Regions from separate parts of the Homo sapiens genome. Here all the other regions are reported to be linked to region 4. Evidence: microRNA targets listed by miRTarBase, many of them from high-throughput screens and not tested one by one. Region 4 holds a microRNA gene; each other region holds the end of a gene's coding sequence.

The links. The annotated mature microRNA hsa-miR-653-5p reads GUGUUGAAACAAUCUCUACUG and lies in region 4 at 1,940-1,960, shown strand. An mRNA with a match to its seed (bases 2 to 7 or 8) in the 3' UTR can be bound and repressed. Matches are read on the target gene's strand: a 7mer-m8 pairs with bases 2 to 8, a 7mer-A1 pairs with bases 2 to 7 and ends in A, and an 8mer does both.
Region 1: miRTarBase lists SH3BP4 as a target of hsa-miR-653-5p. Seed matches in the 3' UTR shown: 7mer-m8 at 964-970.
Region 2: the mRNA of SMAD9 is a reported target of hsa-miR-653-5p. Seed matches in the 3' UTR shown: 7mer-m8 at 2,962-2,968 and 8mer at 4,445-4,452.
Region 3: miRTarBase lists PAPOLG as a target of hsa-miR-653-5p. Seed matches in the 3' UTR shown: 7mer-A1 at 5,172-5,178, 7mer-m8 at 3,854-3,860, 8mer at 2,140-2,147 and 7mer-m8 at 1,566-1,572.

The regions. Positions count from the first base shown.
Region 1 is chr2:235,053,307-235,060,433 of GRCh38, forward strand. It overlaps SH3BP4 (SH3 domain binding protein 4), which reads left to right. Exons shown (of 6, transcript NM_014521.3): 6 at 286-2,408. The coding sequence ends at 510. Among named protein-coding and RNA genes, the nearest start is that of SH3BP4, 100 kb to the left of the region's middle. RefSeq lists a silencer at 2,559-2,853.
Region 2 is chr13:36,842,412-36,849,538 of GRCh38, reverse strand. SMAD9 (SMAD family member 9) reads left to right here. Exons shown (of 7, transcript NM_001127217.3): 7 at 720-4,708. The coding sequence ends at 863. Among named protein-coding and RNA genes, the nearest start is that of RFXAP, 27 kb to the right of the region's middle.
Region 3 is chr2:60,796,078-60,803,204 of GRCh38, reverse strand. PAPOLG (poly(A) polymerase gamma) reads right to left here. Exons shown (of 22, transcript NM_022894.4): 22 at 1,119-6,143. The coding sequence ends at 6,045. Among named protein-coding and RNA genes, the nearest start is that of PAPOLG, 43 kb to the right of the region's middle.
Region 4 is chr7:93,477,656-93,484,782 of GRCh38, reverse strand. MIR653 (microRNA 653) reads left to right here and starts at 1,928; the gene lies at 1,928-2,023. It overlaps CALCR (calcitonin receptor), which reads left to right. Exons shown (of 14, transcript NM_001742.4): 4 at 5,276-5,429; 5 at 7,115-7,127. It overlaps MIR489 (microRNA 489), which reads left to right and starts at 764; the gene lies at 764-847.

The sequences.
Region 1 (7,127 bases), not on the chromosome of region 4:
CAGAGAGAAAGTGCCATAAAGATTGTAAGGAAAGAGAAGTCCTTTCTGTTTATTCATTTGTTGCGCACCTACTCTTGCACAAAGCCCTGCTTTTCCCTCTGGAATGTGCTGACCCTGGCCCCGAGATGGTTCCACTGTTTCTTCTGTGGGCTTGTCTCACTCGTGAAAGAGTGTCCCAAATAGTGACTACTGAAGCTGCACCAAGTAATAGGAACAAATCTCGTTCTGTCTCCTAATCTTTCTTCCTCTCTCCCTCCTTTTGTTTTTTACAACTCCACCTCCCAGGCCATGTGGAAGCCTGCGTATGACTTCTTACTCACCTGGAGCCATCAGATCGGGGACAGCTACCGGGATGTCATCCAGGAGCTGCACCTGGGCCTGGACAAGATGAAAAACCCCATCACCAAGCGCTGGAAGCACCTCACTGGGACTCTGATCTTGGTGAACTCCCTGGACGTTCTGAGAGCAGCCGCCTTCAGCCCTGCGGACCAGGACGACTTCGTGATTTGAATGGGTCCCCTCCCCTCCTGCTGCTCTGGAGTGCAAGCCCTCTTCTGCCCTGCGTGCCCTGCTGTCACCGCGGAGCTGAAGAGGGAGGAAGGGGCGGCTGCTCAGACAGATTTAGGGCCCGCCAGCTAGGCTACACCCATCATGCGCCGCCCTCCTCCATCGAGGGAGAGGCCTGAAGGGACTGCCTACTGCAGCTCGTTGCCAATCACATAGCTTTCTATTTGTTAAGTATAAATTTAAATTTAAAATCACTTTTTTAACGAATGGGGGGAAGGGATCTATGAGAAAGGTGGTATCTAATTTTTTTATGGACCATAAAGGTTTAAAAGAAAATAGGGGCACAGGCTGTTGAGGTTTTTATGTTGTTATAGACCTTTTTAAATTATGTTAGAGATGTATATAGGTATTTAAAGGTCACTGGGAGCGTTTCTGATTCCCGGCCACACTTTGCATTTCAACACTCAGCCCGGAAAGATGCTCGTTCGGTTGTTGGACCTCTTTCACTCCCTGCGTGTAAGAAGGTGAATCACGTGGGAAAAAGTGGCTTTTCAGTAAACGGGTACAGCTCATTCTTTCTGAGAAGGCCCCAGGTCCTGCTCCCTCCTCGGATTTGATTGTCTTCCGTGCTTTGCCTCACTCGTAGTAAATGACCATCCATAGAATATGTGAATCTTTGGTGAGCTTCAGTGGGCAGAGTGAAGTCCCGCATTAGCATTTAGGTGCCCTGAGCTGTTTCTGCCAATAGATTAGAAAGCAGCCATGAGTTGACAGTCTTTAGGGCCCCTGCCAGTGTGCAATTAGTCATTGACAAGAACAATGCCATTTGAGAGTGAGGTGGTCCCTGCTGCTACGAGGCCATTGTACTGTTTTTTCCTTGAGGTCAAAGCAGTGCTTCCCATAGAGTTTGCTGCCTCTTCTGTGGACAGGAAGAAAACTTCATGACCGAATCAGAGCCTTGGTGGCCACTGACTCTCGTGCTTATTGCAGATGCTGTGGTTGGCCTCACAAGCAACGCCTTATGCTGATGTGCAGAGGTGCCAGCTGCCATTTGCCAAACTCTGCATTTCATTTCATCTAAGGCTTAACCCCTCTTCCTTCCTGGTGTACCTGTGTCTCCTCGGAAGGAAGTCATAGTTTAGATGAAACCATTTTTTGTACAATGTAAAGATCATCTGAGCAAGATGAGCATTTTGTAAAAATGAAAATGTGACTCACATAAAATCAGGAACTTGACACAGTGTTGCATTAATAACTTTAGGGTGCAGACATGCTGTGTGAATCTCACAATGCGTCGTAGATGTCGCGTGTTGGAAGGGAGCAGGAGGAAGGACTGATACTGGCAAATCAGTAGAGTGAGGTGATCCTTAGCAACGTGCCAGGACACTTCCTGTGTGCCTGCAGTTGTCAGGGACCATTTGGGATCCCGAATCTCATTCTCTAAAACTGCTTTCTTGAAACATGTTACTTCCTTAGTATAATCAATGTATACTCCCTTACTGGCCTGAAACGTTGTATAGCTACTTATTCAGATACTGAAGACCAACGGACTGAAAAAAAGAACAAACATTAGCTATTTTATGCTGCAAGAACCAGGACACACAATTCGCCAATCATCCCACCATATAACCTTCGATTGTGCTTCTCAACTCCACCCCATAATTTCTCCCAGAGACCATCTATCACCTTTTCCCCAAAGAAGAAACAAAACCAGTTGCACCTTAAACCATGGATATTTTTTCCTCAGGGGCTTTAAATAGTTTCCTATGCAACGTGTCTTGTAGCACAAATAAAATTCTACAAAAGTTGCAGTAAATTTTATTTGGATATTTTAACCTGTTAAGTGTGTGTGTGTTTTCTGTACCCAACCAGACTTTAAATAAAACAAACATGAAACCTAATGTACGTATTTATACATACACCAATGGCTGCCTCCCCAAAATAGTCACCCCTAGATGACAGTAGGACAGCTGGTGTGGCAGGTGTCTATTTTCTTGCTATTCATTTAATTTGCTCTTGAAACACGAGTCACTCAGTCACCACTAACCAAATGGGAATTGGTGTTATACCAGGCACCCAAAGGAAAGCACATCGATGACTTGCTGTTTTCTGGGTCCCATGAATTGGCAACCCCAGTCCCGAAATAGAAAGTTTAGGATGGAGTCATTTCTGTGTGTCAGGTGTCAGCCTTGAAGTGCTGATTGTGGCAAACAAGGGCAGACCGTGCTTTAGGAAGACCGTGTTGTGGGGGAGAAAGGAGTGAAGGACTCCTAATGGAGACCAGCTCCACCTGGAGGTAGGGGGAGGAATGGGGCTAATGGAAATCTTTCTTGGGAACATGACTTTGATGAAAGGCTTGAAGGCTGAGTGGGAGCCAGCTAGACCACCAACAGACCAGCCCTGGGGACCAGTGTGTCGGCAGCATCGACGACACGGTACGTGGGGCAAGGAGAGGCTAAACCCTCCACGTGGCTGGGACTTGTGGAGTGAGCACAAGCCCTCTGTTACCTGGATGCTTTCCACCGCTTGTACCTGTGTTAATTCCACCATGCATCACCTACCAGCTGGGTCCTCATACCCATTTTGCAGTTAAGGACAGGGCTCAATGTGGTCCCATAATTTACACAGCCAATAAGAGAGGCAGGGACCTTAACTCAGGACTGCCGTAACAAAGTGCCCTGCATGGCTAAGGACAACAGAAATGTGTGCTGTCACCGTTTTTGAGGCCAGATGTCTGAAATCAAGGTATCACATGGTCGCTTGTTCTCCATGTCTGTGACTAAATCTCTCTCTAAGGACACCAGTCATAGGATTTAGAGCCCACCCTAATCCATCAAGACCTCATCTTAACTTGATCACACCTATGATGACCCTGTTTCTAAGTAGGGTCACATTCACAGCGGGGTTTAGGACTTGGACACGTCTTTTTGAGAGGCACAATTCACTCACCACCCTGCTCCATGCCTGGCCCTTTGGGCGTAGCCTGCTTGGGAAGAACAGTGCACGAATCAGGTTTAATCTATCTTGGTGCCCTCCGCCCAACACAAAGCAAAGCCAGGGTGGAGGAAGGCAATTCTTAAAAGGAGAAAGCTCTTCTGATGGACTGCCATGTTCCCCCAAGACCCATCCTCTTCCTGAGCCAGCGACTGGGCTGTCTTTCCCCATCTCCCTTGCAGTCAGGTGCGGTCCAGCTAGGAGATGGGAACCAGAATGCTATGGGCCGCCTGCTGTTGAGTCTGGCTCACAGGAACCTTCCAGAAATCCTCCCTTCTTCCAACTGATCAGGAGGAACTCCAAGTCCCTAAAGGTGAGGCAGGGGCAGATAGAAGGACCCCAGATCCCTTAGGGACCCCCAGTAAGCTCTGTTCAGCAAAGTGTCTGTCACACGGTATCTAGAGAGATAAAACTATGATTGGCCACCGAGAAGGTGAGTTAGCTGTTACAGTGGCTGGTGTTGCTTTTAGACCCAGATGATCACTGTAATCCACAAGCTGGCGGGGAATGCAGCTTGTTCTTAACTGGGAAACATCCCTACCACAGCTGGATTATTATTTTTTTAAAATATTATTATTAATTTTATTATTATTCCTATTTTCAGAGAAGGAAACTGAAGCTTAGAACCGTGTTATTCATTGTCGATGGTGCAACCAAGTTAAAGATGCTGTCTTGTTTTTTTTTTTGTTTTTGTTTTTATACTTTAAGTTCTAGGGTACATGTGCACAACGTGCAGGTTTGTTACATATGTATACATGTGCCATGTTGGTGTGCTGCACCCATTAACTTGTCATTTACATTAGGTATATCTCCTAATGCTATCCCTCCCCCCTCCCCCCACTCCACAACAGGCCCCAGTGTGTGATGTTCCCCTTCCTGTGTCCATGTGTTCTCATTGTTCAATTCCCACCTATGAGTGAGAACATGCGATGTTTGGTTTTTTGTCCTTGCAACAGTTTGCTGAGAATGATAGTTTCCAGCTTCATCCATGTCCCTACAAAGGACATGAACTCATCATTTTTTACGGCTGCATAGTATTCCATGGTGTATATGTGCCACATTTTCTTAATCCAGTCTATCATTGTTGGACATTTGGGTTGGTTCCAAGTCTTTGCTATTGTGAATAGTGCTGCAATAAACATACGTGTTCATGTGTCTTTATAGCAGCATGATTTATAATCCTTTGGGTATATACCCAGTAATGGGATGGCTGGGTCAAATGGTATTTCTAGTTCTAGATCCCTGAGGAATCGCCACACTGTCTTCCACAATGCTTGAACTAGTTTACAGTTCCACCAACGGTGTAAAAGTGTTCCTATTTCTCCACATCCTCTCCAGCACCTGTTGTTTCCTGACTTTTTAATGATCACCATTCTAACTGGTGTGAGATGGTCACAGCCAGATTATTTCCAGCAACAAGAACACCCCTTCCACACTATTTTTTCTTGGCCTAAATGTGTTCACAATTGGTCAGTACCAGTCTGAATATAAATGGCTTTTCTCCCTAATACTCCGAGGCCAGGCCAAGCAGTTCAGTTAAACCTCCAGTTTTTCATTGATACTGATTTTGACATTGATGTTGTTGAGAATGATAATTAACATAACATTATGGTATTTGTAGATGTTCTTTAGGACCTCATTCAGGAGAAAAGATTTAGTTAGAAAAGAGTTAGGCTCTGACTTCTCGACGAAAGGAAAATTTTGTCCCTGATTAATTCTTGCCTTGATCTGCACCTGGCCATCTTTCTGTCAAGTCACTTGGGGCATGTGTCAAGTCAGTTATTTTGTAATCCTCCAGCCCCCAGCCCCTCTGAGTATCCATCACCCCACAGTAGTGCCCAAGCTCAGACTCGGTCCTGGGACCTTTCCCCATCAGTGGTCCAGATTCCAGCAACTCATAGGTTTCACAACCATTCCTACTGCCATGACCAGAATTAAGACTTTTTTTTCCTGGATGCTCATCCTCTTTCTTTTTGACCAAGCTACTCCAACACCCTCCCCCTGGTCCTCCCTCCAATTCTGTCCTCCCCTATCCATAGGACAAAGGACTCCTTTCACAGGAGCCCTTCCTGCATCCTTCTGTGTGGTCAACTCTGGGCTCACCCCCTTTGCTATGTCCTCGCACACACGGACTTCCTCCAGCACTCCCTTGACCATCTTTTTGTAAACCTCCCTGTGTTGGTCTAAGCTGTGTCCAGGCTGTGGCACCTTTCCTTCCCCACCTGGCAGAGTCACACACTGAGCTCCTTGAGGACAGTGACCTTGTCTTGGCTCATCTCTGAATCCCAAGAGCCTAGCACAGTCAATACTGGTTTCTTGAAGGAATTGTTCCTATCTCTGCAATAGAAATGCATCTCCAAATAAGATGGCTTTGGCTATTGGACTGAATAGAATGGGCTTCATGCTATGTTTACAACCAATGTAAGAGATGTGCGAAAAGTTGTCCACCAATGAATGCATCAAAACCAGCTTGGATTTTAAGAGGTCAAAGAGGAAGCTTGCAGGGATGGAGCTCAATGAAGTGTATACCAAGAACCATTATATTCCTTAATGAATCATTTTCTGGCATGAGGGAAACATTGTCAGTTTGGTCCATGATTTATGCTGCAATAAAATTTGGCTTTATGTAAAATAGATTGAAATGAGCAACTTAGCTCTTTCTGTGCCATAGGTCAACACCTCTGGCAGTTTGAGAAAGGCTATAAACTCCTCAGTATTATGGAAATACACATAAAAACCCTGAGATCACAGATGAAAGCAATTATGTTTACATACAATTACCAACAATTTTTAGAAATTGTGGTGTAATATATATACTTCTTTATGCATTAAATAACACAATCTAGTAGTTAATCTTACATCCCCCGGAAACTCAAAATAGTGATGAGCATTTAGATACCTGCAAAAGCATTGATGGAAATAAAAATATCAGAGATTTCTATGTTTGGCACATTACGGGAACTCCTAATATTAGAGAGGTTCCTTGCCTAGGTGCATTCTTGAAGGAAGCGCCAATGTTCAGGTTAATGAAAATAAAGATGTAATGTTTTCCCTTTATTAAAGAAAAAAGAGCTTGTCCTAAGGAAACTGAAGTCACCCAGATTTGCTGTACACATTTTTTAAGTGCTTGTATTAGTATTTTCTGCTCCAGGCTAGCAAGAATTGTATTTTTAAAGCTTTGCTTCTCTGATAGAGTTTTCTGCTTCATGAGGGAGAAGGAAAATGTGAAGAAATTAATGGGCTGTGCTTGTGACTTTTTAAGTATCTAGAGTCATCTTTCTTAATTTTCCATTTCAATTGGCTTTTTAAAAAATCTGTGTGCTTATATCATATATATATATATATATATATATTACAACTTTCGATGTAATTTTCATTTTGGGAGGGTGCAGCATACATATTAGTGAGCTACGGGCAGCTTGATGGAGGGTCGACTCACTGCTCGTCAGAGACAGGTCGGCCCATGTCAGTCCTGGGCACACAGAGGGTCCAAGGAACAGCAAGGGAGAAAGAGATGGTTCCTGGGCCTCCAGGAGTTTGTATCCAATGAGGAAGATCAACACACACAAGCAGGCCAGGAGCACTGGGTTCATGCCTGTAATCCCAGCACTTTGGGAGGCAGAGGC
Region 2 (7,127 bases), not on the chromosome of region 4:
TCAGTCATGAAAGTAAAATGTGATCAGGCAGCATGGTTGTGTTGAAATCCAAGTTTTAAAAAACTCTACAGAGAATCACTGCTCCCAGTCACAGAACTGATTTACTTGGCTGTGATCTCCCTTCATTTTTAAATATCCTTTCATTGATATATAACATATAGAGAAAAATATGCAAATTAAAAAAAAAAATTTTAACTGTCTCTCCTTTGAATGGTGATAAAAGGGAAATTGCCAGTTGAACTAGAGAGAGAGAGAGAGAGAGAATAAGCAAGCTTTGATAATGAGCCCTGAAAAACCAAGAGCGCCTTCCAGTTCTGTCTTTACCACTTTCAGGTCCAGTCACTGGTCTGCAGTAACCATTTTGTGCAAGACACTGTCCTGGGCATGAAGGGGTGAACAAAAGGTCAAGTTTCTTCCTTTGTGGAAGGGAAAATGATTTTTCAGTGCTTCCCGTGTGACTGGAGTGCCAGAACCTCTCTAGATCCGAGTATTCAGTTGTGAACCCTGAGGGAATGCACTGATTTGGATTCATCTGAAGGCATCTGGTTGGTGTGAGAGTTGACCTGTGTTTACAGGAAGGTAGAGGCCATGTTCTCTCCCTCTCAGGTCTCAGGAGCTACGCTGGGGTGTGGGCTCTGTGCCCCGCTGAGCTCTGCCTGGGGCTCTGGAGGCTGAGTGTAAGTGTGGCACCATCACTCAGCTCCTTTCTTGTTTTTCAGGGTTGGGGTGCTGAGTATCATCGCCAGGATGTCACCAGCACCCCCTGCTGGATTGAGATTCATCTTCATGGGCCACTGCAGTGGCTGGACAAAGTTCTGACTCAGATGGGCTCTCCACATAACCCCATTTCTTCAGTGTCTTAACAGTCATGTCTTAAGCTGCATTTCCATAGGATAGAGGCTATTGCAGGGAGTGGCTTGTATCATTTCAGATTTGCAACTGAAGTTTCTAAAAACATGTGTAAATACATAGAATGTATACTGTTCTTATTTTTTTTAATCACCGTTTGTTTTGTGCTTTCTAGTTAACCTGATGCCAGTACAGTGCAATTGGAAAAGCAGGACTTTGGTGCCTGTGCTATAAGCAGCAGATTTTGTGGGAGGAAACACTTGAGAGGCGATATTGTCAACAGTATTTGAAGGGTGTTAGCAGAATAAAAGACAGCTTTAGTCAGCCGTGTCATTATAAAGCATGTTGTGTGGCCTCACAGAAACATTGAAACTGTTTATACAGCAAAAGTCAGGTATTAGCAGCACTAAAGCAAATATCACTCAGATGAAACAAAGCAGTGAAACCCCTACAGTTTAAATGATGTCACTTTTAGTGCTGTTGGCAAGAAAAAAAAAACAACAAACTTGTACAATGAATTAATGAGATAGGCCATAGAAACTTTATTTCTAAGGTTGACATACCTATAGCTGGGCTCCTGTGCTCATATTCAGTGGTACATTTTAAACAAACTGTGATCGGAAAAGAAAAAAAACTGTGAAGCCAAAAGTCATGTTCCCTCAGTCTACCACTGTAAAAACAGAGTCTAATATGGGAAAATAAATATGAAAATAGCATGAAATGCTGTTTCCCAGATTGCAAGATAAGACCAGAACTTGGTCCAAGAGCCAGCCACCCAGGGAGACTCCTGCTTTCCACAGAGGAGACCAGGTTCCTGTCGTGCTGGTTGTTCGTGTCAGGCAGTCCTGCAAACTTTGAGTCTGCGCAGCGTGCCAGAATAGCTTGTGTTTCAGTCCTGTGTCAAGAAGCAGGTGAAACCAAAGGTTGGAGAAAAGCATCACACGTCGACTTACACTTTCTCATTTCCCACGTTCCAGTCTCCTGGGAAGGGCACTCTTTCGCCACGTTTTCCTGCCTCTTGGCAAATATTAACTCTTTGCAGATCACTAAAGCAACAGTAAAGACTTTGAGAAAATCTAGACACATTATTGGATCAATGAGTTATTTAACCTAGTGTCTAGTGATTATCTAACCTGGAAATAAATTCCCAAGGAAAGTGATAATAATTTCATAATCATCTGCAATTTCTGGGGAACAGTGGTACTGAATAATAAGACATCTTTTAAAAATATACACAATATTAAAAACCTGTTCTTATTTTACTTTAGATGAGGGAGGAAAATCCCCCAAATTTCTAGGTACTTTCATATATATACTTGCCATGCACTAAACACTGCATTGCTTGGAAAAATATTTCACACCCTCTTTAAAAATGTACAATTTAAGATGGCAGTTATGCTTGTAACAGACAGCACTTCAGTAATCCAAGAAGTTTCTTCATTTATACATTTTATCTCAACTCTTTCTAGCATTAGTGCACATGGTAGTTTTTCTAATTAAATTGTATTCAAGGTAGAAATGATCATGTGAGAAAGATATATGATTGAGCTACTACTGTCACCTCTTACAGTTACTAGTGTTAGCTAATAGAAACTTTCATATATACACATAGAAAAGAATTATTACATTTTACATTGAAAAATGTAATATATGGCCCATGTAGTGTATAGAAAAATCTGTAGTTTATTGGTTCATCAACTATGTATTGTGCACCTACCTATGGGTGTCAGGTACAATGTTAGGTACTGTAGAATCAAATGTAAATAAGAGACAGTCCCAGCCCTCAGGGAGCCGAGAACCTAATAGTGAATCTGTTTGTACAGACATCTTCATGTTTCAGAACTTTTAAAACAAAACAAAATAATGTAATCTATCATCTTTTGCTTGAAAGAATGTGATTGATTTCTTATCTCTGTTTTGAAATTATTTCCTTACTCTTCTGCAAAGTCAGGTAATGGATTCCTTGTATAAATGCTACTTTTCTTCCATGTCTCAAAGTTGTTTTTTTTCCTCCCCTTTCTTCCCTGTTTTCCAATAATTCTCCATGTCCCCTTTTCTTAGAAAAGGCATTAATATGGTGAATCTTGTATGGGAACCATTCCATGGGAGAACTTCAACACAGTTTTTGCTCCAGAGATCAAACATAGCTTTCGTGATCTCTCTACCAGCTATCTAACTTATCCTCTGGTAATCTTTTTTTTTTTTTTTTTTTTTTTGAGATGGAGTCTCGCTGTGTCACCAGGCCAGAGTGCAGTGGCGTGATCTTGGCTCACTGCAACCTCTGCCTCCCGGGTTCGAGTGATTCTCCTGCCTCAGCCTCCCAAGTAGTTGGGACTACAGGCTACCACGCCCAGCTAATTTTTATATTTTTAGTAGAGACGGGGTTTCACCATGGTAGCCAGAATGGTCTCTATCTCTTGACCTTGTGATCCGCCCGCCTCAGCCTCCCAAAGTGCTGGGATTACAGGCGTGAGCCACTGCGCCCGGCTTCCTCTGGTAATCTTACACCTTTACAGAATTAATCTAAACTGGTGGCTCATAAATGACATTAAAAACAAAAAAAAAATCTGGATGCAGTGGCTCATTCCTATAGTCCCAGCACTTTGGGAGGCCAAGGCGGGAGGATCATCTGAGCCCAGGAGTTTGGGGCTGTAGTGAACTATGATCATACAACTTCATTCTAGCCTGGGTGACAAAGTGACACCCTGTCTCTAAACAAAAATCAAGAAACAAAAAACTTGTATTTCCCTGCAGCTTTGGGAAGCCAGAACACAATATTGCAGTGAATCTGAATTTTCTGTGACAAATAAATTATTAAATTGGCACATATGATCATCACCAGTCATGTCTCATCAAAAGCCTTTATTATGATGCTTGTACATTTTGAAGAATTTAGAATTAATGAGAAGTTAACCCTTTAGTCATTGTAACACAATCATATTTTAATCAGCTTTTTCTTTTGCTACCAAGAGTTTCAAAAAATAAATGCAGTATTTGATTTCAGGCTGCTAAATGGGCTCATTTAGCATTCATTCCTTGATGTAGACATTAAAAAAAAAACTGAATAGCATTCTTTCCAGGATAACTAATAAAGCAGACATGCTAAGCCTATAAATACATCAGCACTGCAGCACACGTTTAAGGTTGCCACGGACAAGGATCACACAATAGAGAACACTGTAGTAACATTTCGGTCTGCTCACAAGACCCAGAACATTGATCAGTTTTTGTTGTTGGTTTATTATTTTTCTGTTAAAAAATTGTGAAAAGTTTGTTTTAGCTAGATGATATTTTAATAGCTGCGAGTGCTTTGGAACTATAAAGATGTCACTACTTAACACATATACCTTATGTTTTGTTTTGTTTTGTTTTACACTCAGTATAAATCAGGAGAAGTTAGCCAACCATCTAGCATTTAGAATCCTCTTTTTTATTGTCTTCTAAGGATATGGATGTTCCCATAACAGCAACAAAACAGCAACAAAAACATTTCATAAATATCACTTGATAGACTGTAAGCACCTGCTTAACTTTGTGTCCCAAATATTTAGTGTGTATATATATATATATATATACACACACACACACATATATATTCAACAAATAAAGCAAAATATAACATGCATTTCACATTTTGTCTTTCCCTGTTACGATTTTAATAGCAGAACTGTATGACAAGTTTAGGTGATCCTAGCATATGTTAAATTCAAATTAATGTAAAACAGATTAACAACAACAAAGAAACTGTCTATTTGAGTGAAGTCATGCTTTCTATTATAATAACTTGGCTTCGGTTATCCATCAAATGCACACTTATACTGTTATCTGATTGTTTATAATAAAGAATACTGTACTTATATGTCTTTTGGCTCATTTTTCCTGTAAACCTCATAGAAGATTCACTGTATGTGGGTCTGCAGCTCCTTAAGTCAATTAATTTTAAACCATTCTATTTTGAAAATGGGATGTTAAATTCCACATGCTATAGAGAAATTAGGTAGTGGTTTTGAATTAAACACCTTAGAATAACCGTCATGAAGTATAGTTCTTGAAGATACTTCACAGTAACTTTAGAAAGGATATATGTAGAACCTTTTTCTGGATAGTAGCAAATACGTGATATTGCAGTATATAGGAAAGAATGAGCACTTTCATTATTGTAAACATCTGTACATTGCTACAGATTGCCTATTAGAAAGGTGCTAAAAGGCAACTGGTGAGGGAAAACTAAGATGAAATCCAAAGAAATATGAACACATCATCTAAAAATGTAAATTCTCAATTCCTTTCATCTAAATTTCCTTCTAATCTTAAAAAGGAAGGGGAAACTCTATTACCTATAAGCAGCTTTCTTATTTACTTGATCAGAGTTGTCAATTTTTTTAACGAAATGGAGCTCTGTATTCAAAAAAAGTGTTTTGTGGAACTCCAAAATAAAAACACATGAAAGATATGCCTGTTTAGATCCTGGTGGGGACCGTGAAGCCTCCAGTTTACACTGTAAGTTTCTGGAGAGCAGTGATTGTGTCTTGTTTGTCTCCCATGGTTCCCGACCCTGTGCTTGCATCTAATATTTGGTATTGGCATTTCAAACACGAATACACATTCTTTAAACATATCATGGTACAGACATAAAATACTGTCTTTAAACATCAGCCCGTCTTAGAGAAGAAGTATTTTCATCATCCTAGACTCCTTATATTTACTTGTCAGATAGTTCTTATGCATCAGCAGGCACTGTAGATACAATGACAAAGTTTCTACTTTTAAGGAGCTTACCATTTTGTGGAGAAAGGTGAACAAGTAAACCAATAATAAGCAGTGTGCTGTCAGCTGTGACAAGCTGCTGGGACCACCGAGTGACATCTACATCAGGCCCTGGGTGAGTACCAGGGAAGGCTTCTGGGCCGATCCAAGTTGCCATCCTTCACGGCAGTTCTCTTAGTAAATCATCCCAGGCATTCCTAAAGCAGGTTAGTGCCTGCTGTCTGTGTTCCCATAATACTTTGTGCCCATCAATGGTCAGTATCAGTTCCTGCACCCCACTGTTGTTTACTTATCCATCTTTCTGCCAGGCTGGGATGTCTTTAAGGACAGGGATTCCATTTATTCATTTTCAGCATTTTCCAGCTACTGTTTGTTTAGAAAGGCTTTTGGGGATCACATTGTAAAGGCAGAAATGGTAGTTATTTTTAGCTCTTTCTTTAAAAATATCCGAAAGTATTTAGCTTCTCCTTTCAAAATAAAAAGCATTGCCAGTCCGCAGTCCGGCCTGGGCGACAGAGCGAGACTCCGTCTCAAAAAAAAAAAAAAAAAAAAAAAAGCATTGCAGGCCTCCAACTGCATATCACGTAACCATGCACAGCAGATAGGGATCAGAAAAGCGTGCTTGTGATTTATTTTGGAAATAGTTATCCAGCTGCATAGCAGTAGCAAGGAAAAGTAGTTTTAGCAATTAAACAGTTAAAATTGCTTTTATTCTAAGTATTTATTTTCACAATGTGAATTTGAGTATGAGAAGCATAAAGAATTTTGATGTTATAACACCAAGTTAACAGACACTAATTCTGAAAGTTTACCTCCGCATGATCACTGATGGTTCCATTATTTGCATACATCTAATAAAAATGTTAGGCAAGGCCTCAGAATGACTCTTAATCTAAATGCCAATGTTAAATGGAGTAAATATAAGGAAAATTATATTCAGTTTGGTTTTTAAGCCAAAGAGAATTCACACCTGCAACGTGTTCTTTGAAGAGAACGCTTGCAAGTGGCAGGCTAACTTCTCTCTAGTCTCATCATTTAGGAAGGAAAAATTATCAAAACAGGCCAGGAGCGGTGGTGGCTCACGCCTGTAATCCCAGCACTTTGGGAGGCTGAGGCGGGTGGATCACCTGAGGTCAGGAGTTCGAGACCAGCCTGGCCAACATGGTGAAACCCCGTCTCTACTAAAAATACAAAAATTAGCTGGGCGTAGTGGAAGGTGCCTGTAATCCCAGCTACTCAGGAGGCTGAGGCAGGAGAATCGTTTGAACCCAGGAGGCGGAGGTTGTGGTGAGCCGAGACCGTGCCATTGCACTCCAGCCTGGGCGACAGAGCGAGACTCTGTCTCAAAAAAATAAAAAATTAAAAATAAATAAAAATCATCAAAATAATCCATTGATATTTAAGCATAATTTCAAATATTCTGAACATCATGCTGTAAAAGTGTTTTGTCTTTTTTGATGCCATAACAGCATATACTTTCTTATACATTCGGTCTTCAAGCTAAATACAAT
Region 3 (7,127 bases), not on the chromosome of region 4:
GTGCAGTGGCATGATCTCGGCTCACAGCAACTCTGCCTCACAGGCTCAAGCAATTCTGCCTCAGCCTCCTGAGTAGCTGGGATTACAGGTGCATGCCACTACCACCTGGCTAATTTTTGTATTTTTAGTAGAGACGGGACTTCACCATCTTGGCCAGGCTGGTCTTGAACTCCTGACCTCAAATGATCCACCTGCCTCAGCCTCCCAGCGTGCTAGGATTACAGGTGTGAGCCACTGCACCCGACCCCAATACGTTTTATTTTTGTCCTTAGTACTGTAACACATTTGGATCCACGAAGAACCTGTTATGATGTTAATTGACTTTAGAAAACATTTTATCACAGCATGGTAATTGTGTTAGTATGTTATGTCCTAGGAGCAGTGAGTTGCCCCAACCAGAAATTTACACTCCAGAGATGGCCACCTAGCAATCCAATCGAGAAGCCCACACTTCAAAAGTGACTACTAGAAGCCCTTGTTATCCATAGCTCAATCAATGCAGACTTTGCCAATTAGCTTAATAAATGTCAAATGTGTTTCCATTGGTGACATGAACAGCTTGCTAGTAATACTAACGACGCAGACACAAGCTCTTATTTGTGAATTCAGCACTAGCACATGGATTGGCTAAAAACCAGTCACTGTCCATTCTTACAAGAGGTTTAAGAATGTAACGAGCCCTGTAACCTGTACTTGTATGCATAGTACCCACAGCTTGATCCTGTGTCCAGCCATTATTAGTACGGAGGACTGATTGCCTGATCCTGATCAGAAGGGTGACAGAATTTTGCCCCTAGTGCTTGACATAGACACCTCAAGTGGCCTTTTCATGAAAGGGTGGTCAGACCACCAAAAGGGACAGAAAGCTGGGACACTCCATTAAGGTTATAGAGCAGACTGTATAAACTGTTGTGCCACCGCTTGCTGATAAACGTTTAATAAATGATTCTGTGTGATGCACATTAGGTCTGAGCTTTGCATTCATACTAAGTGGGTAGTAGATACCATTATCTACCAAAAAGAGTCTGAGTGGTAAATGACAAAATTGGTTGTCACTGAAAAGTTAAGACTTCTGGTACTTTTGAGTTAGTCCCAAATAACATCACTCAATCATCACCTATTTATCAAAGCAATTTTATTTGATTACTTATTCCAGGCAAATAATGAGGTTCATGTGTACAACTAAGAAATCAGACAATCCAAATAAAAGGCAGGGTAAATTAATATGAACTACACAAACAGCTAGCTAGAAAGGAACAGCAGCTCCATTCATTTTACATAGTACTGTAGAGTGATGTAGCACCATTAATCTCAAAGATATCCTAAGTACTTTCTAAGATAAGTACGTGGGTCTTTGTTCAAATGTAGCAATAGCTTAAAACTTATAGCAAGCTTGATGATCATCTTATGTTCAACTAATTTCAAATATAAAAGTATATCCGAAAAATTATTTCAGAAAAAATAGGGGCTGGGCACGGTGGCTCACGCCTGTAATCCCAGAACTTTGGGAGGCCGAGGCGGGTGCATCACTGGAGGTCAGGAGTTTGAGACCAGCCTGGCCAACATGTTGAAACCCCATCTCTACAAAAATTAGCCAGGCCCACATGGTGGCGGGCGCCTGTAGTCCCAGCTACTTGGGAGGCTGAGGTAGGAGAATCGCTTGCACCTGGGAGGTGGAGGTTGCAATGAGCCAAGATTGCGCCACTGCATTCCAGCCTGGGTGACGGAGCGAGACTCCATCTTAAAAAAAAAGAAAAGAAAAAATAGACAATTTGGGGGATGACGTGACCTTATGCAATTGGAAAAAAAAAACCATTATTGAGACTGGTTTTCTTCCATCATCTGCACTATTTGCTACTATGACCAATTTAAATTCTAAGCTTTGGATGATTTAATAGGTAGTTATTTGAACACACATACAATTTTATTTATACAAAGTTTTTTTTTTTCCCTAAACTATCACTTTTATATTTATTGGTCTGTTTAGTTTGTTCTGGCCTGAACTACAAACATGGAGGAGCAAGAGAGTTTTCATGCTACAGAACTCAACATTTTGGGATCTTTAATGATTTATTCTATTTTCTACCATTTCTAATGATCATTCTAAGCTATTGTACTGTGATAATATTGGGTTGAAATTTGTTGAACTAAAGTTTGACCCTGTTAACGAATCTAAGTTATCATGAGGCCATCTGTAAATCTGAGATTAAGCATTTTTCTAAATACCGAGGACTTTACAGTTTCATTTTAGGTTATAAACTTAGAAATTCAGAATTCCAGAGTCCCTCACCAGCCCATTTTACTAGTTAGGAGCCACAGCACATTTTCAGAAATATACCACAGCAAAATCAAAAGTAGAAAATTATATAATATTCCAGGATTATTCAATCCTGGTGGTTCCTAACCCTAACTCCCATACTTTTGCCACTTCGAGAAGCTGATCTAAACTATGCACTTTCCCCAAGAAAAATGCATGTAAACTAGAACTTCTTATACACAATTATAAAGGATTCCCTAAGGGTTCATGATTCTCAAGTTAGGAATTCCTATTTCAAAGGTGTGGAACATAGTGGAAAATAAGTTTAGCCCATTTTGATATTGCCCATCTTTACCTAATTGCTACTATAGTGAAGTAAGCATTTTAATAATGCTACTAAATTGCTGCTTTAAAACAAAGCACTCATTTTAAACACTAACATAGATTTTTAAAATTCATTCTCCTGGCTGGGCACAGTAGCTTATGCCTGTAATCCCAGCACTTAGGGTGGCCGAAGCAGCCAGATCACTTGAGGTGAGGAGTTCAAGACCACCCTGGCCAACATGGTGAAATCCCATTTCTACTGAAAATACGAAAATTAGCTGGGCATGGCACAGGCCTGTAATTCCAGCTACTTGGGAGGCTGAGGCAAGAGAATCACTTGAACCCGGGAGGCAGAGGTTGCAGTGAGGTGAGATCATGCCACTGTGCTCCAGACTGGGTGACAGAGTGAAACTCTTGTCTTCATAAAAAAATAAAAAATAAAAAAATAATAATTCTCCTGTCCCAGTTTTACAAAGTTTTAAGCCATGTACCTCTATCTTGAATTGGTTAAGTCCCTAAGGTTTAAGCTAGCAGGTAATTGTTTTCCTTTCATACATATTCTCCAGAGCTACTGAAAAATGAGCAAATTAAAATGTAATGCCCTTGTGAAAATGAACATGTGTCTATATACTGAAGAACAGATTATTTGACTTCATAAAATATACTTCTAGGTATTTTTTCACACTTGAAAACAAACACGGCCGGGTGCGGTGGTTCACGCCTGTAATCCCAGCACTTTGGGACGCCGAGGCAGGTGGATCACCTGAGGTCACAAGTTCGAGACCAGCCTGGCCAACATGGTGAAACGCTGTCTGTACTAAAAATACAAAAATTAGCTGGGCGAGGTGGTGGGTGCCTGTAATCCCAGCTACTTGGGAGGCTGAGGCAAGAGAATAGCTTGAACTCGGGAGGTGAAGGTTGCAGTGAGCCGAGATTGGGCTACTGCACTCCAGCCTGGGCAACAAGAGCAAAACTCTGTCTCAAACAAAACAAAACAAAACAAAACAAAACAAAACAAACACATGTACTTAGTGCCTCTCATCATAACACAAAATCCCAGATCATACTTTCTCCTTTTTTACTTGGAACTAGTACAATGGAAGCTTCCCACCAAGTTAACGAAATGTACTCAAAGTTCTACCTACTGGTCAGGATAGAAAATATTTTATTTCTGACAAACCCCACCATCTCAAAAGTATTTTATCAACTCCTCAGTTACCAAACAGGTTGAAGAATGCTATCTTTGAGGACTCTAATGTTGACTCATTGACATGTTGAATGGGCTCCTTAATCTAAAATAAATGCCTATCCTATAGTACAAGGTTAGACTTGTTGCTTCCTTATTAAAGAAAAACTCCACTAGTCACTCCAAAGATCTATTTACATAATGGGGTAAACATGGATACAGAAGGAATTCCTAAAGATACTTTGAAGGCTGATTTAAAAGCAAAAGATATGAAATGCAGAAATGCATACACATCCAGTATATAAAATTTAATCAAATTCCTTACTAAAGCTTTCAAAAGTTGAAGTCAGGTGATAATTCTTCGGTTCTTTCATAATCATTCATTTTTGCTCAAATAGACTATTTGTAGAACAATCCCAAAACATCTGAATAAAGGGAAAGAGTCAGCTAAGACAACAGCTTTGCCAAGGAAGCTTCAACTTGGTTATGTGATTTTATTCTTATCTTTTGCTGCTATATAAAAAGGGAATAATAGAACAAACATTTTTTTCCTTGTTGTTCTTTACTTCTAAGACTCTTTTCATGTTTTCCATGGTACAAGGTAAACATTAGAATTTACATTTTGGAGACCTAAGGGGCAATGAACAGGAGTGGGACCTGGAGGATACGGCTCTCTGGCAATTCAAGAATTTCAACTCAATGGTAAAGGGCTTGCAAGAGAAAATGGACTGCTATTTCTCCACTTGCTAGATGGCATCCCGTGAGTCCTATAATACACGAGGTGTCTTCCCCACACTACTCAATGTACCATTTTGGGTTTTTCCTACTGGACCTACTAAATGCTGAGTGAAATCTAAAGAAGGTGGTAGATACTAGCATTCCTGGCTGTGTAATCTATACATTTTCATTTTAAATATAGTAATTCAAGCATAATCCATATTTAAAAAATTAGACTAAGGAGAGACAATAAAGGTTTTAAACGTTTCTCTTTGAAAAGATGGTATCTTACAGTACATACAAAAATACTCTGAAAATACATACGACTTCATTTACAAAACACTGAATCAACATATTACAAGAATTACATGGTTATGGATTTTAATAAACTGAGCATGCATTCATGAAACTTAAAAAATATTAAGAAATGCATTGAAAAAAGCAGCGTAAAAAAAGACAACTCATATAGTTAAATAAAAATTACAAAGGTCCTGAGCCAATTAATGGTTGGTAACAATGTCATTCAAAATGCCTTTAGGTTTCAATAAAATCCACTGCTTATTTCTGCATGCCTAGTCCGTGAAGAAACTATTTGAAGTTGTGGGGTAAATAATGATCAGGAATTATCATGCCAAGTTAATTTTACACCTCAAAAATACAAGTGTGCCATACTTAAAGGTTATCTTATTGTTGATGCTGGAATGAGTTGCTCCTCAGTAAAAAATACCAGTCAACTAACAAGAATGGCATGAAATAGGATATGTAACAATTTTACCATTCATATACTGACTTTCAGTATCCTGGTTATATTTTGATTTTTAATAAAGATGCATTTCAAAGGCCTCCATGGGAGGCAAAATATAGAGAATTTATGGTGCCCAACTCTTATGTAATCACTGGACTAATCTTCCCTGGTAACTATGCAACATTTGGACAGAAAGGCACACAAAAAAGTTTAAATATTTCATGTGCCAATCTGGAAAAAAATAATTTAAATCAACAGAACAGACAGTACATCTACACAAATGAGGAAAGCAGAAAAGATACCTCACATTCATTTATCTCAGGTTTCAAAGTGGCTTCAATGCTAAAGTAAATGTATTAACATTTGGAAAATACAAGACAATTTTTTTGTTTGTTTTCAATTTTTTTAGCTCTATACAATGATTACAACATAAGACAAAAAAAGAAAAACACAAAAAACAAAACAAAAAAGGAGTTCAGGACTTGTTATCAGTGTCCAAGTGGCTAAGAACTGGTTCCCATAACAAGCATTGAAAGTTAAGGCAGTAAAACCCCCAAATGCAAAGCTGTAATACTGTAGATGGCAATTTGACAGCAGGTGATCCTCAGAGAAGTGTATGTAGCAATCAGTGAGAGAATGCTACAGCATCTACAGGTCAAAGTTTGACAGTTCAAAAACCACTTCAAGGTTATTAGACTGAAGGCTGTCACTTTCACCTTATTTCACGTATGACAGCCACTTCTATTTAAAAAACAAGTGGCTGCATCTATGCCACTAAATGATTGCTTGTTCACTTAAGTGAGGAGGCACTGCTTTTACCGATTAAGGGTCAGTCGAATGGAATTTTTGATGACACGGATGTTGTTTGCTGGAACTGGAGATGATGAATCTGGTAGTTCTTTACTGGGTAGTCTCTATTAGAAAGAAAGAGGAAACAAAAAAGGAAAAGCACATCATATATATTATAAAGGCCCAGCTAGAAAGTCAGTCACAAAACTTGGGGAGTTTTTCTCCCAAACCCTCTAGCTCCTAAACACTCAAGTATGCAATGAATATTTCCTTCCGTGTTCATAGGGAACTCTTGCTTTCGGAACTGCTACTTCTTTTTACAGTCAGAGGTGAAAAGCAGAGGGATAAGAGAAAGGGTAGAAGTGGCAGGAGTGTGAATATGTACAGGAAAAGAGGAACTGCCATGCCTGGATCAAGAAATGCATAAAGAACACAGTCCTTAAGGTCAAGCAAAGAAAAAAAAAAGGAAGTTCATGGTGACTAAACAGGAAGCTCTTGGGGTGTGAAGTGAAAAATGAGTGTGTGCAGTAGAGAAAAATTTAATATCTGAGAGTTATGTCCCTCAATTTGTTTCTGTAATACATTCATGAAGAAGACCACTGACTCAATCTGTGAGATACTTAAGTTCTCAGGAAAACTGAACTTTGTACTTAGGCTAGATAACTTTGATGGTTATGAAATTCAGGGACATCGGTTTGAGGGATTCTGAGGGCATTAAAGATTATTACATAAAGAAGGCAAAATCTAGGGCCGGGCATGGTGGTTCACGCCTGTAATCCCAGAACTTTGGGAGGCCAAGGCGGGCGAATCACTTGAGGTCAGGAGTTCAAGAGCAGCCTGGCCAATATGGTGAAACCCTTTTCCACTACAAATACAAAAATTAGCCACTACAAATACAAAAAGATCGCGCCATTGCACTCCAACCTGGGCTACAGAGCGAGCCTCCATGTCCAAAAAAAAAAAAAAAAAAAAAAAAAAGGAAGGCAAAATCTAGACTTCTGTAATGGGGATAGTTTCTTGTCAAGAGATGACTGCTTAATTCTCCTCTTGTTTTACCTTGGCTAAGCCAGTATCTGTATCATATCCATATGCATTAAAACAATTATGAG
Region 4 (7,127 bases):
ACAAAGACATAAAAATTAGGTTCTTCAGAGCAGGTGTTATTGTTACTTGTTTACTTATCTATGTTCACCTATTTGCTTTGAATTTATGATATATGCAGTTTCGTTGTTTATATAATGTAAGTAGAATTACACAGTACACCAGCCAGGCATCTGATCTTACCTGGGAAAACCAGGGCTAACACTTTTTACAACAGTGTGCTTTGTCCTTTCTTATTTTGAAATGTGTAAGTAACTGAAAAGCAAAAATAATTATATACATTATCAACATTAAGGATGGTGACATGAAAATCTCATTGGTTGCATCAGTTTGTGGATTCTAGGTTTACATACTTTTTAGAGTAGTTTTGCATGTGGCAATCAATAGGAAGCTCTCCCTTCAGCACAGCAGCTTGGGTCCATACACTCAGTGGGCTTGAACTATTGCAGAGATGGACCATTTCTCAAAGTTCCATGAAGAACAGCTCTGTAACTGTCTCTGTACTTCTAGAAACTGCCTGTAACCCAAAAGCAAACTGACTGTCCTACATCACAGTAGGAATTGCATAAGCATATGACCATTTCAAATCAGATTCCTTTCCTGTGGATTCCATGATTAGTGTGGATAAAATCAAGAATGTAAGCTCTATGAGAGCAGGTGGCTTGCCAGTTTGGTTCACTGCTGAATTTCCAGAACCTAGAAGAGTGCCTGACATGTGAGAGGCACTCAAAGTATTTGTCGACTGAAAAAAACTGATGATGTTTGGGCTGCTGACTACTGCTGTTGGTGGCAGCTTGGTGGTCGTATGTGTGACGCCATTTACTTGAACCTTTAGGAGTGACATCACATATACGGCAGCTAAACTGCTACATGGGACAACAATTAAGAGTTTTGTTTGTTTGTATGTTGAAAAATCATGTAAGATGGTTTATATGCAAAGCTTTGAAAACTGATGTTTATTCAGAAAAACAATATGCCCTTAATATCTCATTTCTATCTGAATGTGAACATATAATCATATTTTTATTTAACCCCCTGAAATAAGTAGTATAGACATAACACTTATAATAAGTAGGATATTTGAAGTCTCTTACATTGTTTGGTAGTTTCATCCAATCACTACTGGTTTTATTTTGTCTCTGTATTGCTGAAAATGATACCACCTTCCCAGCAATTCTTATTTGTATAAAATTATCAGCAAAAGTTTAACATTTAATAAACTTTATGAAATTTGTATATGTGTTATTTTTAAGCAGTAGTAATTCCATGATTGTAATTATATATATATAATATACATAAAATCATACATATACATATATTTATATGTTTATATCTATCTATCTGTCTGTCTATCTATCTATCTATCTATCTATCTATCTATCTATCTATCTATCTATACAGTCAGCCCTCTGTATCCATGGGTTGTACATCCATAGATTGAACCAATCTTGGATAGAAAATATTCAGGAAAAAATTGTATTGTAAACATACAGACTATTTTTCTTTTTATTATTTCCTAAATAATACAGTATAACAACTATTTACATCATATTTACATTGTACTAGGTATAAATAATCTGGGGATGATTTAAATAATACAGGAGGATGTACATAGGTTATATGCAAATACTACACCATTTTATATGAAGGACCTAAGCATCCTCAGATTTTGGTATCCACATATGCAAATACTACACCATTTTATATGAAGTACCTAAGCATCCTCAGATTTTGGTATCCACAGGAGGTCCTGCAACCAATCCCCTGAGTATACCAAGGGATGACTGTATGTATAAACGTAATGCCCCAATGGGTATGTTATTTTAGGAAGAAGGCCACTGAGACATTCATCTACTGTTGGGAAAATTCCATCTTCAGTGCTCAAATATGAACCAGACCAGGAACTGATGCAGATTATTACTGCTCATCTGACAACAGAGGTTCTAATTTTTCATTCCTTCAGTGTTGAAACAATCTCTACTGAACCAGCTTCAAACAAGTTCACTGGAGTTTGTTTCAATATTGCAAGAATGATAAGATGGAAGCTACTTTCATCAGCATGAATTATAACTACTCGTATACAGATTGTCGTATTTCCACTGTTACTGATGTTAAAACTGCATTAAAGCAAATAAAAATATAATTGAAAATACAAGCATAGGGTTTTCTACTTGTTATCCTCGGACATACTATTTGCCTATGGTTTCCATGAATTTCCAACTAGAGCAAGAAAATCTCTTGGTTGGTTGTCAGCCATATAAAAAGAGAATTCAGAATGTTACTTTTGGGAAGAAAGCCAGATTTAAACAAAATACTTCCCAGTGTTTAGCATATCTAATACAAGTGACAGATAAGATTTATATATGACATCATGTTCCATCTTCTAATTCGATTTGAAGATGGTGAGAAAATGGTCCAGAAATTAATAATACATCAAATGATCATTCTCATATTAACTGAAGATTTTAGAGCCACAAAAGAAGAATCTAAAATAAATGTATAAGTTGAACCAATAATTAATATCTCTATTGTGAAGGCATCATGATCCATTCTTGTTTTGATGGTTGCCTAATATGTAATTGAATTTTTAAAACACACATATTCATACAAAAGTTGAGTAATAAACTAAAAAAAGAAACCTCAACATGGAATCCCTTCAAATTACTCTTTTTTAAAAATTTTGCAAATCGTGTTCCAATTCCATTAGGAATATCTAAGAATTTTATGACTGATGATTCTTTATTGTTCATAATTTCAAGTATCAGAAATATATTTTATAGTGTTGGTCCATCTTGCCAGACTGTAAGCTCTATGAGAGCACAGTCTACACTTATTTTATTCAGCACTGTATCCTCAGCATCTGGCACAATGTTGGGCTCATCAAGTTTGATCAATATTTGCTGACTGATCTGAAGACCAGTGGGGAAAGTGTCATATATCAAAAGAATTGTGTTCAGCTACACTGGTAAAGGATTTGCACAGTTATAATCATTTTTATGGGTTCATTACTTTCTCTTCTGACATAAATTCAAGAGACATTAAAATTAGAAATCAACAAAATGTTTAAAGAGTAGTGTCAACCTTATTCACAATTGGTGTCCATTTGAAGTTATCACAGTAATGTTATAATAATGATAAGTATTCACCCTCTTCTCTTTGCAAGATATTTCCACTAGGATGGCTTGCTACCATCTCCAAATCTAACCCAAAATAGGACTTACTTACCAAGGGGGAGAAGTTCCCCCTAATAAGGTTTTCCTTTCCCAGCATCTTCCCTTTCTTGGGAACTATTTTTTTCCCCAAATATCTAGGCTAATTATCTGGGCTATTTGACTATTACTGTTTCCCATTCCTTGTATTCAAATATGCCTTCATGTTTTTATTATTGAGAAGGTGCTAAGAGTGGTACTTTCTTGTTCCAACATGGACTGATCTAGTCCAGCCAGGCCTTCAACTTCCTGGCTGCCCCCACCCCACCCCGCAACTTTAACCTGTGGACATCTGATGCCTGCTGCATGAATTTTACTAAAAATTCTCCTTTCACAACCTTCACTGATCAAAAATCTACAAAACATCTTTATCATATATATTATGTTATATACCATGTTTTAACAATATTAGCTAAAATGTTTTGAACCTTTCATGTCCCTGACACTTGGTGTTTATTGTCTTGTTCATCCTCACAACATGACAGATGATAAATATTATTCTTACCGCTCTTCTTATTTTACGTTTCCTAGGTTGAGGAAACAGATCTAGTGAGAGGTTGCTAACCTGCTCAAAGTGACAAAACAAGTTTTAACTCTTTTTTTGTTATCTGAAGATTCAGATAATGCAGTCTTGAAAGCAAAGTCCTGACCTTCTTACCCTCAAATATGCTCCCCTTCAGGCAAGATGGTTTTCTCACAGTGGCTCATGCATGTCATTTCCAACCTCCAGACTTTTGTGGGAAAGGTCCCTCCATCCCAAAAGGCTTCTCGACCCCCCCTTGTGCCTATGCAGAAACTTCCCACACTCAAGATACAATTCAAATTCTACCTTGTATCTGTAGCCATCCTGAATATTTTTGCTCCCTACTCTCTCCAAACTCTGAATTTTGATTGGATTCTGTGCTGGACAGCTTAGCAGTTAGTGATGTGCTGTCGTGTAGGACATATACAATGACACACATGGAAAACAGTGAGGATTCACCATGAAGAGCCAGGAATATACATGTCAACTTAATAGGGATGAGTTTTGTTTAGAAACTAGCACATATAGAAGAGTACATAACACCACTTCTGCCATCAATACAATTGGAGAAACTTCAATCTTAGAATTGAAATTTCAACGGGTATGATAGAAATTAAGCAGCATTCCTAAATTTAGAAAAAGGAAAGTCAGTGCAGGCTGATGTTTTTAGGTCTCCTCAAAAAAAGAAAAAAAAATCTCTATGCAGAACATGGATATTAAAAATTCGCAGATTCCAACACCACTAAAAACATTGGTCATAGCCACAAAAGAAATTGAAATCTTTATAAACACAAGTTAGGAAGAACAGTGTGACAGAGTGATCTTTTCAAACACCCACATTACCTTTGAAAAAGAGAGGCTTGTGATGGTGATGATTAACTGAAACTGAAAAAAACTATTGTCAATCTGTACCAAAATGCAAATGTGCTGAGATAAATATCTAAGAAATACATTGATTTTTCATTAGTGAACATGAATTGCCCTGTACAGGTCATCTGCTGTTGAAACCAATTTAAGGAGATTATGGTCAATTATGAGGAGCAGAAAACATATTTTGTTTGTTCCATGGAATAGATGGGATAAATTTCTGGCAGTGTACACAGCACCAATAAAATTTAGCTGAAAGAATCAAATAAAAAAGCATATTTATTGAACTATGTCTATTTTTTAATAACATGATTCATGATTCTTAAGAGTAAGGCAAAGTTGATTTCATATTTGTATTTTTTGGAAATTAGATTATTTGTTTTGTTTACTTCTAAACTTTAGAATCATAATACAGTTAAAACAATCCTAGCTGATAAAGAGGTATATGAGTGTGTAGGTGTTATCCATTTTCAATAGTAAATGGAAACTAATGCAAATGTAAAATGTGCCAGTAGAATTTGTAGATGAAATGTGAAAACATTTTTTGTAATATATATGAAAAAAACTGTACATAGAGACCATGAATAAGTATTGCTTAGAGAGCAAAAATAAATGTTTTCAAACTTTTTCATTGTCTCATTTATTTGTGCTCACCCATTCCTCCTGTCTATAAGTAACTGATTTTTCTTTTTAATACAGCACCCAACCCCAATTCTTCCTGCCTTTTCAAATCAAACCTATCCAACAATAGAGCCCAAGCCATTTCTTTACGTCGTAGGACGAAAGAAGATGATGGATGCACAGTACAAATGCTATGACCGAATGCAGCAGTTACCCGCATACCAAGGAGAAGGTAAAGAGAAGGATATATATGAACATATGTTTGAAACACCATTACAGACATTTTCTTTTGTGGTTAAATATGTGTTGAATAATTTTAATTTAATATGCCAGCAGTTTTCACAGCAGTTTTCACACTATGGTATGTTTGTGTATTTCATGCAGTGCATATGCCTAATTTCTTTGCCCAAGTTCATCTGACTGCAATTTGGCTAACATCTGCCCTCATGATAAAATTACCGCAATAATTCAGTATTCACACCTGGTGAGCCGGAACAGTAAAGGACCGAGTGAGGGAGGGGATGTACAAAATGACAGGAAAGGGAATTGGAAAATAGAGGGCAGAGAATTTGCCTGAGGTGGACCCTATCAAACCCTATCTTGCTTGGATTAATTAGGTAGTATCTTCCCTTTAACTGTCAATTGGTTGGCAACCCATACTATTCTTCCACACTTTCTGGCCCCACTTTCCAGGAGAATTACAAAAAGGTACCTCCTAGCCAGACATTGTTTATCTACCAGCTTCTCTAGAATGGCTGTATGTGACTGCCCAGATATTTTCAGGTCTAAACATATTCTATTAGCTGTAGAGGACCCATAGAAAAACAAAAGGGGAGATGTGATGGGCAAGCTCATTGCAACATCCCTTTAAATTCTCCTACTTGTCCCCTGAGGCATTTGAAAAGATTCAATAAGATCTTTTACTATATATATATATATATATATATATTTAAGACAGGGTCTCACTCTCTCGCCCAGGACGATCCTCCCACTTTAGCCTCCTGAGCAGTTGGGACTACAGGTGCATGCCACCATGCCCAGCAAATTTTTGTATTTTTTTGTAGAGATGGGGTTTTGCCATGTTGTCCATGCTGGTCTCCAACTCCTGGGCTCAGGAGAGGTTCCCAAAGTGCTAGGATTACAGGCGTGAGACACTGCATCTGGCCTACTACCATGTACATTTTAAGACAACCCAACTTGGTAGGGAAAAAAATGGTAAAATATACTCTGTTACTGCACATTCTTTGCTTTCAAATAGTTCAAGTTTTAGTTTGTAGTTCTTATTTTTACCATTTTCCTTTAAACAAAAACATCAAGTCAACTGAAAGGCAGATACATATTATTCTTCTGTCTGCAGTAATTTCAGTGTTTATCAAGAACTGAACAGGCATTAGACATAACTCTGACCAAAGGAGAAACAATTTCGTTGAAGCCAGTGAGACAATAAAAACACAGAACTGATATTTTTGGGGTTTTCTGAGAGCTCTTTTCATTTTTTAAATAATTTTTGAGAGCTTTCTTGAAAGCCTGGATCTGATTCTTTTGAATACATACCTTTATAGAAGTAAATCTTCATGGTTTTAGGTAGAATTTTTTTTTTTTTTTTTTTTTTTTTTTTTTTTTTGAGAGAGGGTCTTGCAGTCTTTGGGGCATTTGCTTTTTTGATGCACTCAACTTTGGAACCTTTTACAAAGTAGAAATAGAACCCTGCTTGTCATCCAATGAGATAATTTGGTCACAGATATGCTAAGCCTATTTGAAACTTTATTTCCAAAATAAATGACTTGGCTTGTTTGAAATGTGGTTGGTTATGACTGGTGTAGTGAGCTCAGCTACTTGTAATATCGTCTTGGGATCAATCTTCTCATTTAGTTAAATCCACAAGGCTTCAATATCAATTTCCTTCTAAATGGCCAGGTCCATATTGCAA